Linked DNA regions of Homo sapiens. The protein of the gene in region 1 interacts with the protein of each later gene in a biochemical or structural test. Each region holds a gene or a part of one and is shown in the gene's direction. Other genes may lie near its edges.

Region 1 (7,000 bases):
CCGCAGCATCCTGGACCTTCCGTGGCAGATTGTGCAGGTATAGACCTTGATCCAAGGGGAGGGCAGTGGCTCTGCTGATGGCCCAGGGAGGGGGTGTCCAGCTGGGCCCTGAGGTCTGGGATGGGAGGGTTAGAGTGGGCCTGGAGTTTCCTGCCCATCGTAGGGAGGCCTAAGGCCCTGTGCTGGGAGCTGCAAGCTACCTGGAAGGTGGCCCCGTCTGTGGGTTCCAGTGTGTCCTGTGATGTGCTGTATGTCCGTGTGGCCTTTCAGATCAGCGAGACCAGCCAGGCCGGCCTGTTCAGGCTGTGGGCGCTCGTTGGCAGTGACTTGCACTGCATCAGGCTGAGCATCCCCCGTGTGTTCTACGTGAACCAGCGAGTCGCTAAAGCGGAGGAGGGTGCTTCGTATCGCAAGGTAGGGAGGAGCTGGTGCTGCCTCTGCAGTCATCTGGGCAGCCTGAGGTGGCTTTCCCATGATCTAGCCTGGCCTCCAGCCTCCATCTCCTCAGTACCTTATGGGGATGTTCTAGGAATTCCTCAAAACAACGTGTGTGAGCGCTGAGCACCGAGCCTGGGGCAGAGCGAGTGCCGGGAATGGAGCTGCTGGTGTCCTTGTCACGATGAGCTTGTCTGCCCGCGAGGTCCATGTTGCGGGGACAAACCAAGTGGCATTGGTTAGAGATTGTGAACTCTGTCTCCGTAGGCTCTTTGGTTGTTAACAGCTTTATTGGGATGTAAAGTTACGCCATCCAACTCACCCATTTAAAGTGCAGAATTCAATGACTTTTAGTGGCATGACTATTGCCAGTCAATAGTGACATTTTCTTTTTTTTTCTTTTTTTTAATTTTACTTTGATTTCTGGGATCCATGTGCAGAAAGTGCAGGTTTGTTACATAAGTAAGCACATGCCATGGTGGTTTGCTGCACCCATCACCCCGTCACCTGGGCATTAGGCCCCACATGCATTAGCTGTTTATCCTGATATTCCCCCTCCCCTCACCCCCCCATTCGGATATTTTCATCACTCCAAAAAGAAACCTGGCATCCCTTACCTGTCACCATCCTCCCCCAGCCCTCAGTAGCCACTGATCCACTTCCTGTCTCTGGGTTTGCCTGTTTGGGCATTTGATGTAAATGGAACCCTACAGTAGGTGGGTCTTTGTGCTGGGCTTCTTCCACCTGCAGAAACTGCGAGGGTTTTCATGTGGCCATGAGTGCGCTGAGGCTCTTAGATGGCATCTCCACCCGAACTCCCCGTTGTTAATGTGTCGGCTCAGCACATTTCTTGACTGGATGCTGTGAATCACGTAAGAAGTGACACGTAGTTGGGGAGATGAGGTGTGCATATTTGTACCTACACAAGGAGGTTTTCTGGAGAAGGTGAAACTCGATTCCAGCCAGGTGATTCAGTAGAATGTGCATATAGAAAGTAGACGCAGAGCCAGGTGTGGTGGTTCACACCTGTAATCCCCGCACTTTGGGAGACCGAGGTGGGCGGATAACAAGAGGAAAGCGGACGCAGAGGCATCGAGACCACAGAGAACAGGTGGGACTGTGGGGTTTCTACACCTTCCTTTCGATGCGTGGTGCTGTGGTGCTGTGGCCGTGTGGAAGTGCCCTAACTTTTGGGATGTTTCCCTTTATGACTATCAGCTCATCTCGAGGGAGGTTCTGGCGCTGTGTGAATATTCTGTCCTCAACGTTTGACTGGATGGTGTCAGCATCCATGTCTCGTGGGGTCCATGGGGCTCCAGGATGATATCTTCAGATTCTGTTCCTCTGTGTGTATTAGCTGTTTCCTTTATAACGAAGAGCTTTGTGCAGATCAGGTAGAAATGAACTCTATTCCTTAAAAAGCAAGATACGAGAGGGATAATACGCTTTTTTTTTTTTTAAGCAAGATAAATGCTTTTTCCCTTTAAATTATTTTTAATTTTCAAGGTAGGGCATGGCAAAATGGGTTTATTCCTTTCATTTTTCCTCTCTTTTTAAAGTATTACTATGGATTAGAGGATTTTTGTTTAACTTTTTTGTTTCTGTTTTTGAGAAGGTCTCTCACTCCATCACCCAGGCTGGAGTGCAGTGGCATGATCTTGCCTCACTGCAGCCTTGTACTCTTGGGCTCAAGCAATCCTCCTGCCTCAGTGTTTAATGTTTTAACATCAACCGTAGCCAAATCCCGCCCAACACACACACGTTAGGTATGTTAAGGTACACGGTAGGCCCTCACTTTATGTTGTTGATAGGTCCTTAGAAACTGCAATTTTAAGTGAAATGACTAAGTAAGATGATGTATAATGAAACAGATTTTTTTTCTTCTCAGAAACTATAATGAAACTGTGTTGGCCAGGCGCAGTGCTGCATATCTGTAATCCCAGCAATTTGGGAGGCTGAGGCTGGTGGATTGCTTGAGCTCAGGCATTCGAGACCAGCCTGGGCAACGTGGCAAAACCCCTTCTCTACAGAGTATTTTTTAAATTTATTTATTTTTATTTGTTTGTTTGTTTGTTTTGAGATGGAGTTTCTCTCCTGTTGCCCGGCTGGAGTCCAGTGGCGCATCTCGGCTCACCGCAACCTCCGCCTCCCGGGTTCAAGAAATTCTCCTGCCTCAGCCTCCCAAGTAGCTGGGATTACAGGCACGCACCACCACGCCCGGCTAATTTTGTATTTTTTAGTAGAGATGGGGTTTCTCTGTGTTGGTTAGGCTGGTCTCGAACTCCTGACCTCAGGTAATCCATCCACCTCGGCCTCCCAAAGTGCTGGGATTACAGGTTGAACCATGGCGCCCGGCCCCAGAATTTTTTTTTTTTTTTTTTTAAAGGAAGAAAGAATGTTGAACAAAATGATGTTATTTGAGGACCTGCTATACATTACTTCACTTAACCATCACAGTTTCCAGGAATCCATTGATGTTAAGTGAGGACTTACTGTAATTTACATATAGTTAAGTGCAGATTTTTAAATGTGCAGTTGATTGGGTTTTTGGACACATGACTATGCCTGTGTCACCCACACCCCCACCCAGGTGCAGAACGTTTCCATCACCCGGGAGGGTGCTCTTGTCCCCCTGTGCAACCTTCTGCTGGCCTGATTTCTGTATTTCTGTAACTGTGTGCATGTGACTTTCTAGAACTTCATATTAATGGAACCAGACAGTAGACTCTTTGGTGGTCAATATCTTCTTGAGACTCAAATTATCCCAAATTGGGCTGGCCAGATCCCTTCAAGCTGGCACCTGAGTCCTTTTGACATGCCCTGTTGGTCTTTGAAAACTTCCTTGCTTTTTGGCCACTAAGAGAGGCCAGGCTCACCTTGAACTTCCAGACGTGGAATTAGCTGTTCCTCTAAAGAGCCTGAGCCTCGTTGAGAGGTTATGTTGAGAAACCAAGCTTAGAGCTCAAGGGGTATCATTTCATCTAGATTCCTTCAGTGAACAGCCAGGAAATATATACATTTTAAAAAGTGCAATTACACTAATTGTTCCAGTTCATATTTACCAGAACATAATTTTTCATTTCTTTGATTTTGTGTGTGTGTGTGTGGGTGTGTGTGTGTGTCGGTCTAATTTCATGTTACTGGAAAAATCTAACCCTACTGGTTCTCTTCTCGCTTGAGAATTATTCAGATTTTCCTGGTTGTTGTTACGCCAAATAACGCTTTATTGCAACCTGGACATTTTACATATTTGAGACTTTGGGTATTTTTAAAAATCCTTTAGCGTGTCAGGTTTTTTTGTTTGTTTGTTTTAGCAACAACCAACACGGTTAATTCCAGTGCCCAAGCTCTTCCTTGCCTCTTTGTGCAAAGCTTCCAATGTCAGCTCAGCCTCCAGAGCCTCTGCTGCGTTGTTTTGGGTCACCTGTGCAAGTGCAGCTCGTAGTGAGCCTGGGACTTGTGCTGCTGGTTCATGCATGAAGCTAGGGTGCTCCTCTCCAGGATTCCCCCAGCCCCCCACACACGAAGCTAGGGTGCCCCCTCTCCAGCTCTCCTCTCCAGGATTCCCCCAGCCCTCCACACAGGGAGCTAGGGTACCCCTCTCCAGCTCGCCTCTCCAGAATTCCCCCAGCCCTCCACACAGGGAGCTAGGGTGCCCCCTCTTCAGCTCTCCCAGACCCCCCAGGACCCCACACAGGAAGCTAGGGTGCACCCTCTCCAGCTCTCCCAGACCCCCCAGGACCCCACACAGGAAGCTAGGGTGCCCCCTCTCCAGCTCTCCCAGACCCCCCCAGGACCCCACACAGGGAGCTAGGGTGCCCCTCTCCAGCTCTCCCAGACCCCCCCAGGACCCCACACAGGAAGCTAGGGTGCCCCCTCTCCAGCTTTCCCAGGCCCCCCCAGGACCCCATTCACGAAGCTAGGGTGCCCCTCTCCAGCTCTCCCAGACCCCCCCAGGACCCCACACAGGAAGCTAGGGTGCCCCTCTCCAGCTCTCCCAGACCCCCCCAGGACCCCACACAGGGAGCTAGGGTGCCCCCTCTCCAGCTCTCCCAGACCCCCCCAGGACCCCACACAGGGAGCTAGGGTGCCCCTCTCCAGCTCTCCCAGACCCCCCCAGGACCCCACACAGGGAGCTAGGGTGCCCCCTCTCCAGCTCTCCCAGACCCCTCCAGGACCCCATTCACGAAGCTAGGGTGCCCCTCTCCAGCTCTCCCAGAGCCCCCCAGGACCCCACACACACACTCTGGCTCCCCCAGGGGCTCTCTTTCCGTTTCTCTGACTAGGAAAATGTGATTTCTCTCAGTTTTTGCCATCTACACCCTCAGGTTAAACCCATGAGAGAATGGAGGAAGATGAACTGGGAACCTCCCCAGATCAGTGTTGACTGCTGTATTCTGACAGCTCTTGTCTATTCTCAGAGGCTGCAGGTTGCTTTTCAAAATTGCGTCCAGAGGCCAGGCATAGTGGCTCACACCTGCAGTTCCAGCGATTTGGGAGGATCACTTGAGTCCAGGAGTTTGAGACCAGCCTGGGCCTCATAGTGAGACCTCCTTTCTACAAAAAAAAAAAAAAAAAAAAAAAGCCATCCGTGGTGGTGTGTTCCTTGTCCCAGCTACTCAGGAGGCTGAGGCTGGAGGACCACTTGAGCCCAGGAGTTGGAGGCTGCAGTGAGCTGTGATCACACTGCTGCACTCCAGCCTGGGCAACAGACTAAGACCCTGTCTGTAAAAAATAAATAAATAACATAAAAATTACATCCAGAGTTTTTAGTTGTAATCATTGAGAGAGGTGGACTGTGGCGTGGTGGGTGTACCCCGTCGCTAGGGGCACCAGAAGTCTAGGACTCCGAATAGCGTGTGCTTTGTGTGTGTACCACAGACATTACCACTTACGCCCAGTGACGAGATCATCGTCGTATTCTCGCCAGGTAAATCGGGTCCTTCCTCGCTCCAACATGGTCTACAATCTCTATGAGTATTCAGTGCCAGAGGACATGTACCAGGAACACATCAACGAGATCAACGCTGAGCTGTCAGCGCCAGACATCGAGGGCGTATATGAGACTCAGGTGACTCCCCAGCCACCCTCGACTGAACTGGGGGAGGCTCCAGCAGGGTGGTATGGAGGAAAGAAACCCGCCCAGGGTGTGGGCTGGGGAACAGCAGCGACAGTGGACTCGTTCCCACAGGTGAGGTGAATGTCAGCAGTGTGTCTGCCAAAAGTGGCCTTTGGGCAGTGGGCCGGGCAGCTGCAGGGGCACAGCCACATCCCGGGCAGAAGTCACGTGGGCAGCCAGAGCCCCCACCATCCAGCCCTTGCCGGCCTGTCTGCCCGATTCTTCCAGGTTCCGTTACTGTTCCGGGCCCTGGTGCACCTGGGCTGTGTGTGTGTGGTCAATAAACAGCTGGTGAGGCACCTTTCAGGCTGGGAAGCAGAGACCTTTGCTCTTGAGCACCTGGAGATGCGCTCTCTGGCCCAGTTCAGCTACCTGGAACCAGGTATGGCCTGCACCAGCCGCCCATCATGTGCCTGCCTCCCACACATCTGGGGTGACGGTCTTGTTTCCTTCTCCAGGGAGTATCCGCCATATCTACCTGTACCACCACGCACAGGCCCACAAAGCGCTCTTCGGGATCTTCATCCCCTCACAGCGCAGGGCATCCGTCTTTGTGCTGGACACTGTGAGTCCTGGGCCCTCCATGGCAGCACATTGGCTGGGGCAGGGTTTGGGGAAGGAGGACATCTCCCAGGGTGCCCAGGCCCTCCAGGTCTTGTCCTCAAGGGCCTTTGCCCATGAGTGCTTGTCGTGATTGAATTGGCAGTGCCGTGGCAGTGGTGGAGTCTGCCCCAGGGCTGCCCCCACTTCCTCCTGCGCAGGGGGAGGCTGACGTGGCCTGCGTTGGTCTAGGTGCGCAGCAACCAGATGCCCAGCCTTGGCGCCCTGTACTCAGCAGAGCACGGCCTCCTCCTGGAGAAGGTGGGCCCTGAGCTCCTGCCACCCCCCAAACACACCTTCGAAGTTCGGGCAGAAACTGACCTGAAGACCATCTGCAGAGCCATCCAGCGATTCCTGCTCGCCTACAAGGTGAGAGTGGTTGGGGTCTTGCTGTGTGAGCCCCATCTTCTTTGAGGCTGGGTCCACCCAGGTCTTTTCTTCCATTTTGCCTTGACCCAGGAGGAGCGCCGGGGGCCCACACTCATCGCTGTTCAGTCCAGCTGGGAGCTGAAGAGGCTGGCCAGTGAAATTCCTGTCTTGGAGGAATTCCCACTGGTGCCTATCTGTGTGGCTGACAAGATCAACTATGGGGTCCTGGACTGGCAGCGCCATGGAGCCCGGCGCATGATCCGTCACTACCTCAACCTGGACACCTGCCTGTCGCAGGCCTTCGAGATGAGCAGGTGAGCACAGTACTGTCGTTGTGGGCCAGTGGTCCCCAGGCAGAGCCGGCCTCGGTGGTCTCTGTGACCCGGCGATGTGCCCCGGTGCTGACCTGTGCCCTGGTGCAGGTACTTTCACATTCCCATTGGGAACCTACCAGAGGACATCTCCACATTCGGCTCC
Region 2 (7,033 bases), on another chromosome or scaffold:
CACTCCAGCCTGGGCAACAGAGAGAGACTGTCTCAAAAAAAAAGTCTTGAAAAAAAAAAAGACTGCTTTAGCTTTGCCCATATATCATTTATGATTAATGTATGTACAAAGTTTAGAACAGTGTCTGATGTATAATAAATTTCATATAAATGTTAACTTACTTCCTGTTCCCTGCCCCCAATACACACAACTGCTAGATCGAACATAAGCTCTATGAGACCTGGGATAGTGGTTTGTTCATTACTGTATCCCTGGTGGCCTGGCACATATGGCACATAGTAAGCACTAAATAAGGATTTGTTGAATGAATAGATGGTAGGCTCTTCTTGGCAAGCTTACCTTAGAACTGTATCGAGCTGGCATGACTTTAGATGGCTGGGAAAAGAGTATAAAGCTATCATTCCTTGGTGACACATCTTTTCCTTGTTGTGATGTAGATGCCTCCACTCCAGCCTCATCAGAGTTAAATAAACAGGAGAAGGAGAGCAGCATGGGTGATCCAATGGAAGAAGCACTTGCTCTTTGCTCAGGCTCTTTTCCCACAGACAAGTAAGTCTCAGATTGCTGGGAATTTGGGAAGGCCTGGCCTTTTGATAAAATCAAAATAACTGATCATCTTAAGGGCTTTGCACCTTTTCTGAGAATCTTGCAGTGGATTTGAGTCTCATATATGCCTAGTAAGCAAATTATAATGCTTTGGTGGAGAACAGGGTAAAAAAGGCAAGAATATGAAAGCTATTTAATATCATTAATAGAGAAATGCCAATCAAAACCATAGTGAGACACCCATTAAGATGACTTTTATCAGAAAAACCCCAAGAGTGTTAGTGAGAATGTGGAGAAATTGGAAACCTTGTGTACTATTGGTGAGAATGTAAAATAGTGCAGCTGCCAGGGAAAGTATGATGGCTCCTCAAAAATTAAAAATAGAGGCCAGGCACGGTGGATCATCTGAGGTCAGGAGTTCGAGACCAGCCTGACCAACATGGTGAAACCCCGTCTCTACTAAATACAAAAAATTAGCTGGGCATGGTGGCGCATGCCTGTAATCCCAGCTACTTGGGAGGCTGAGGCAGGAGAATTGCTTGAACCCGGGAGGCAGAGGTTGTAGTGAGCCGAGATCATGCCATTGCACTCCAACCTGGGCAACAAGAACAAAACTCCGTCTCAAAATAAATAAATAAAAATAGAATGACCATATGATCCAGCAATTTCACTTCTTAGTCTGTACCCCAAAAAAGTGAAAGCAGGACTTGAACAGATATTTGCACCCCCATGTTCAAAGCAGCATTATTCACAGTAAGTAGTCAAAACATGAAAGCGACCTATGTTTATTGGCAAATGAATGGGTAAACAAAATGCGGTATATATGCAAAGGAATATTCAACTTAAAATGGAAATTCTGGCTGGGCATGGTGGCTCACACGTGTAATCCCAACACTTTGGGTGGCTGAGGTGGGCGCATCACTTGAGCTCAGGAGTTTGAGACCAGCCTGGATAATATGGCAAAACCCCATCCCTATAAAAAAAATACTAAAATTAGCTAGGCGTGTGCCGGCAGTACCAGCTATTCAGGGGGCTGAGGTGGGAGAATTGCTTGAGCCTGGGAGGTCAATGCTGCATTGAGCCATGATTGTGCCACTGCACTCTGGGCATCAGAGCAAGACCCTGTCTCAAAAAAAAAGAAGTTCTGACACTTGCTACAACATGGATGAACCTTAGAATGTTATGCTAAAAGAAATAAGCCAGTCACCAAAAGACAAATACTGTATGAGTCCACTTACATGAGATACTTAGAGTAGTCAAATGCATAGAGACAGAAGGTAGAATGGTGGTTGCCAGAGACTGAGGTTATAAGGAAATGGAGAGTGTAATGGGTATAGAGTTTTAGTTTTGCAAGCTGAAAAGAGTTCTGGAGATTGCTTAACAATATGAATGTACTTAACACTACAGAACTATAGAAAGATCGTTAAAAAGGCAAATTTTATATTATGTGTATTTTACCACAATTGAAAATTTAAAAAATTTTCTTCCTGTTTATTGAAGAGATTATTGGTGATAATAAAAGTTTTAAATTTGGCTGGGCGAGGTGGCTCATACCTATAATCCCAGTACTTTGGGAGCCCAAGGCAAGCAGATTGCTTGAATCCAGAAATTCAAGATGAACCTGGGCAACATGGTGAAATCTGTCTCTACAAAAATACAAAAATTAGCTGAACATGGTGGCTTGTATCTCTAGTCCCAGCTACTCAGGAGGCTGATGTGGGAGGATCACTTGAGCCCTGGAGGTGGAGGTTACAGTGAGCTGAGATGGTGCCACTGTATTCCAGGTGGTGTAAGAGACCAAGACTGTCTCAGAGAAAAAAAAAAAATTAACACACACAAAATTTTTTTTAATTCATAACTTGGCTGACTACTTGTAGTTTGCTTTCAACAACTTATTTATTGATTCATTGATTTACATTTTAGGGAAGAGGAAGACGAGGAGGAGGAATTTGGAGACTTTCGGCTTGTTTCAAATGATAATGAGTTTGATAGTGATGAGGTGAGTATGAAGGGAACAAAGTAATCATAACTGAGCTCCATGTATTGCTGCCCTCAAGTGTTTTTTTCCCCTCAGTTCTTGAGAATTCTAAGTTTGGCATCTTATCAGAAACAATTTCCTAGAATGAGGTATTTGGGCAGATGTTTATAAATCCTTTTTTCATTGAGGACGCATTTTATTCTGCTTAATTTGGATATGATGCTGATTTTGTAGGATGAACACAGTGACTCTGGTAATGATCTGGCACTGGAAGACCATGAAGATGATGATGAAGAAGAACTCCTGAAGCGATCTGAGAAGTTGAAAAGGCAAATGTACGTGTTATTAATATGTCCATTCCTTCAGGTGTATTTAAAATTTGGTCACTAGGCCAGGCATGGTGGCTTGCGCCTGTAATCCCATCATTTTGGGAGGCTGAAGCAGGCGGATCACCTGAGGTCAGGAGTTCAAGACCAGCCTGGTCTTGGTGACACAGGTCAAGAGATCGAGACCATCCTGACAAACATGGTGAAACCCTGTCTCTACTAAAAAATATAAAAATTAGCCAGATGTGATGACAGGTGCCTGTAGTCCCAGCTACTCAGGAAGCTGAGGCAGGGAGAATCGCTTGCACCCAGGAGGTGGAGGTTGCAGTGAGCCGAGATCGCACCACTGCATTTCAGCCTGGGTGACAGAGCGAGACTCTGTCTCAAAAAAAAAAAAAAAAAAAAAGTTGATCACTTAATATGTCCTGTGTGCTAATAACTGTGCTTTACAGGCATTAACATATTATCTTATGCCAGGCACAGTGGCTCACGCCTGTAATCCCAGCACTTTGGGAGGCCAAGGCAGGCATATTACTTGAGGTCAGGAGTTTGAGACCAGCGTGACCAACATGGTGAAACCCTCTCTACTAAAAATACAAAATACAAAATAAAATACAAAAATTAGCCAGGCATGGTTCTGGGCGCCTGTAGTGCCAGCTACTTGGGAGGCTGAGGCAGGAGAATTGCTTGAATATGGGAGGCGGAGGTTGCAGTGAGCCAAGATTGCCCCACTGCACTCCAGCCTGGGTGATAGAGCAAGACTCCATCTCAAAAAAATTATCTTATGAGTGGGTACTATTATTCTCCTCATTTTACAGTTGAAGGAACTGAGCCTCAGAAAGATTAAATTTACCCAAGATCACATAGCTAGAAGGCAGCAGAGGCTGGATTCAACTTAGATTAGGTGAAATCTCCCCTAACAGTCAGTTAATAGTTTGCCACTTTTTAACTTAAATCCTCCTGCCTCAGCTTCCCAAGTAGCTGGGACAACAGGCATGTGCCACCACACCTGGCTAATTCTTTCTATTTTTTGTAGAGATGGGGCCTTGCTTTGTTCCCAGGCTGGTCTTAAACTGTTGGCCTCAAGTGATCCTCCTGCCTCTGCTTCCCAAAGTCTGGGATTACAGGCATGAGCCACCAGGCCCAGCTTTTTTTTTTTTTTTTTTTTTTTTTTTTGAGACGGAGTCTCGCTCTGTCGCCCAGGCTGGAGGGCAGTGGCATGATCTCGGCTCACTGCAACCTCCGCCTCCCGGGTTCAAAGCGATTCTCCTGCTTCAGCCTCCTGAGTAGCTGGGAATATAGGCACGTGCCACCACACCCAGCTAATTTTTGTATATTTAGTAGAGACGGGGTTTCACCATGTTGGTCAGGATGGTCTCGATCTCTTGACCTCACGATCCACCCGCCTTGGCCTTCCAACATGCTGGGATTACAGGCGTGAGCCACCCCACCTGGCCGGCCCAACTCATTTTTTTGATATGCTGTTCTGGTCATGAAAGTAAAATATTTATTTTAGGATATTTAAAAGAATACAAACTGGGTGCAGTGGCCCACGCCTATAATCTCAGCACTTTGGGAAGCTGAGGCGGGTGGATCACCTGAGGTCAGGAGTTCGAGACCAGCCTGGCCAACATGGCGAGACCCCGTCTCTACTAAAAATACAAAATTAGCCAAGCGTGATGGCCAGTGCCTGTAATCCCAGCTACTCAGGAGGCAAAGCTGGAGAATCGCTTGAACCGGGAGGTGGAGGGTGCAGTGAGCTGAGATTGTGCCATTGCATTCCAGCCTGGGCGACGAGAGAAACTCCATTCTCCCCGACCCCCGCAAAAAAAGAATACAGAAAGATATAAATAAAAACTTATCCATGTCCACCATCCAGGATATAAATGAAAGTTAGTTTGTTCCCCTTAATCTTTTTTATGCATATATTTTTATATAGTTGAGATTTGTACAATCTTTCTATATGTATAATTTTGCATCTTTTTTTTTCTACTTAGCATATCCAGAAACATTTTCCTATGATGTTAAAAAAAGTTTTATAAAGATAATTCTAATAGGTATTTAATATTATATTGTATGTGAATGATTTGGAATTCACATATAGGACATCATATTGATCCCTATTAGATTTATATGGTTGCTTTTATCCCATCATTTCATTCTATTAAGATTCACTTTGGGTTCTAATTTATCACCTATCAAATTAACTCTCATACAGCTTTAGGTTATCCATAGATTTTTCTAAGGTAGTGGTTCTTCTCTGCAGAGCTCTTTGTTCAAATAAAATCTTTTAAAGAATGACAGATAAAAGTTGAACTGTTCAAAGATGGTAAGTGGGAAGTTTGGGAAACTTAGTGACTAGTGGCCTCTGAAGGAATTTTCCAGGAACTCTAGGATTTAGAACAACTTAGCTTTAAGAAAATACAGTATAGGCTGGGCGTGGTGGCTCATGCCTGTAATCCCAGCACTTTGGGAGGCTGAGATGGACAGATCCCCTGAGGTCAGGAGTTCAAGACCACCCTGGCCAACATGGTGAAACCCTATCTCTACTAAAAAAACAAAAATTAGCCAGGCATGGTGGCACGCACCTGTAATCCCAGCTACTCGGGAGGTTGAGGCATGAGAATCACTTGAACCCAGGAGGTGGAGGTTGCAGTGAGCCGAGATGGCATCTCTGCACTCCAGCCTAGGCGACAGAGCGACACTTCATCTCAAAAAAAAAAAAAAAGAGAAAATACAGTATAGGTCTTCGATAAAAATCAGTTTTCAGAAAGCCACCAAACTTCTGCCATTTTGGACCACATGGGACCAAGGTGACTTTGAATCCAGGGTGACACCAGATTTATTCTCCGGGGGAGCTGAAGTCATAAGAAGTAACTAGTCGTTTTGATTACCAGGAGCTCTGAGCCTTAGTCTTCCTTCTGATGTGGGGGTCAAGATTTGTTAGGCTGTAAGAAGATCCCAGTTTATTACCTTTCTACACCACACCATCTCTAGTTTGTCTCTTAAAGCTGGTGTGCTCAAATGCAAAATGAAATAGTTTGAACCTTCCAGCAGGTATTCTAATACATGTAAAAGAGATTAAGAGTTTTCTGGCTTTCAAATCACCCAATCTAAGTTGAATCCAGGCTCTGCTACCTTCTAGCTATGTGACCTTGGGTAAATGTAATCTTTCTGAGGCTCAATTCCCTCAACTGTAAAATGAAGAGAATAATAGTACCCATTCCTATGATAATATGTTAATGCCTGTAAAGCACAGTTATTAGCACACAAGACATATTAAGTGATCAACTTTTAAATACAGATGCTCCACATCTTACAATGGGACTATATCCTGATCAATCCATCATAAGTTGAAAATGCACTTTCATATTATCCAGATATAACTCCATCGTAAATCGAGAAGCATACTAAGTGCGTATCACATTCATGTCATCGTAAAGTTGAAAAATCATTAAGTCAAACCATCATAAGTGGAGACTATTACAAAAAAATTTAAATATTATCAAATGTATTATGTTTATTATTATTAGAAGTGACTCTGTTCTGCTTTTCTTTGCTTCCATATTCTGTGAGTATATTCATTGTTGCATTTTCTAATCCTCAAAATTGCTTTCTAGGAGGTTGAGGAAATACCTGGAGGATGAGGCAGAGGTGTCAGGAAGTGATGTGGGAAGCGAAGATGAGTATGATGGGGAAGAAATTGATGAATATGAAGAGGACGTAATTGATGAAGTACTTCCTTCTGATGAGGAACTGCAGAGTCAAATCAAGAAAATACACATGTCAGTATCCCAATAAGCCCTTCTGAGTAATAGGGTACATCTTAAGACAAGCCCTGTAACCAGCCAGAATGGTCCTTGTTTTGAACACCTTATTTCTCCTGTTGCAGGAAAACTATGTTGGATGATGATAAGCGACAGCTACGTTTATACCAAGAGAGGTACCTTGCTGATGGGGATCTGCACAGCGATGGTCCTGGGCGAATGAGGAAGTTTCGATGGAAAAACATAGGTATCTTGGTTGTTGTCTTTAAAAGCAATCAGTTACGGGCTGAGCATGGTGGCTCACGCCTGTAATCCCAACACTTTGGGAGGCAGAGGCAGGTGGATCACAAGGTCAGGAGTTCAGGACCAGCCTGAACAACATGGTGAAACCCCGTCCCTACTAAAAGTTCAAAAAT

Evidence for each region.
Region 2: the proteins of POLE (region 1) and CLSPN form a complex in vitro, tested with the Homo sapiens proteins (one study listed by BioGRID).

What each region holds. Positions count from the first base shown.
Region 1 is NC_000012.12:132,642,343-132,649,342, reverse strand, and holds part of POLE (DNA polymerase epsilon catalytic subunit A), read left to right. Parts: coding exon 1-37; intron 38-270; coding exon 271-414; intron 415-5,316; exon of another isoform or gene 5,317-5,365; coding exon 5,366-5,506; intron 5,507-5,782; coding exon 5,783-5,936; intron 5,937-6,012; coding exon 6,013-6,119; intron 6,120-6,346; coding exon 6,347-6,523; intron 6,524-6,613; coding exon 6,614-6,837; intron 6,838-6,945; coding exon 6,946-7,000. UniProt on the Homo sapiens protein: Catalytic component of the DNA polymerase epsilon complex. Participates in chromosomal DNA replication.
Region 2 is NC_000001.11:35,738,967-35,745,999, reverse strand, and holds part of CLSPN (claspin), read left to right. Parts: intron 1-437; coding exon 438-549; intron 550-2,423; exon of another isoform or gene 2,424-2,469; coding exon 2,470-2,545; exon of another isoform or gene 2,546-2,758; coding exon 2,759-2,859; intron 2,860-6,470; coding exon 6,471-6,635; intron 6,636-6,742; coding exon 6,743-6,864; intron 6,865-7,033.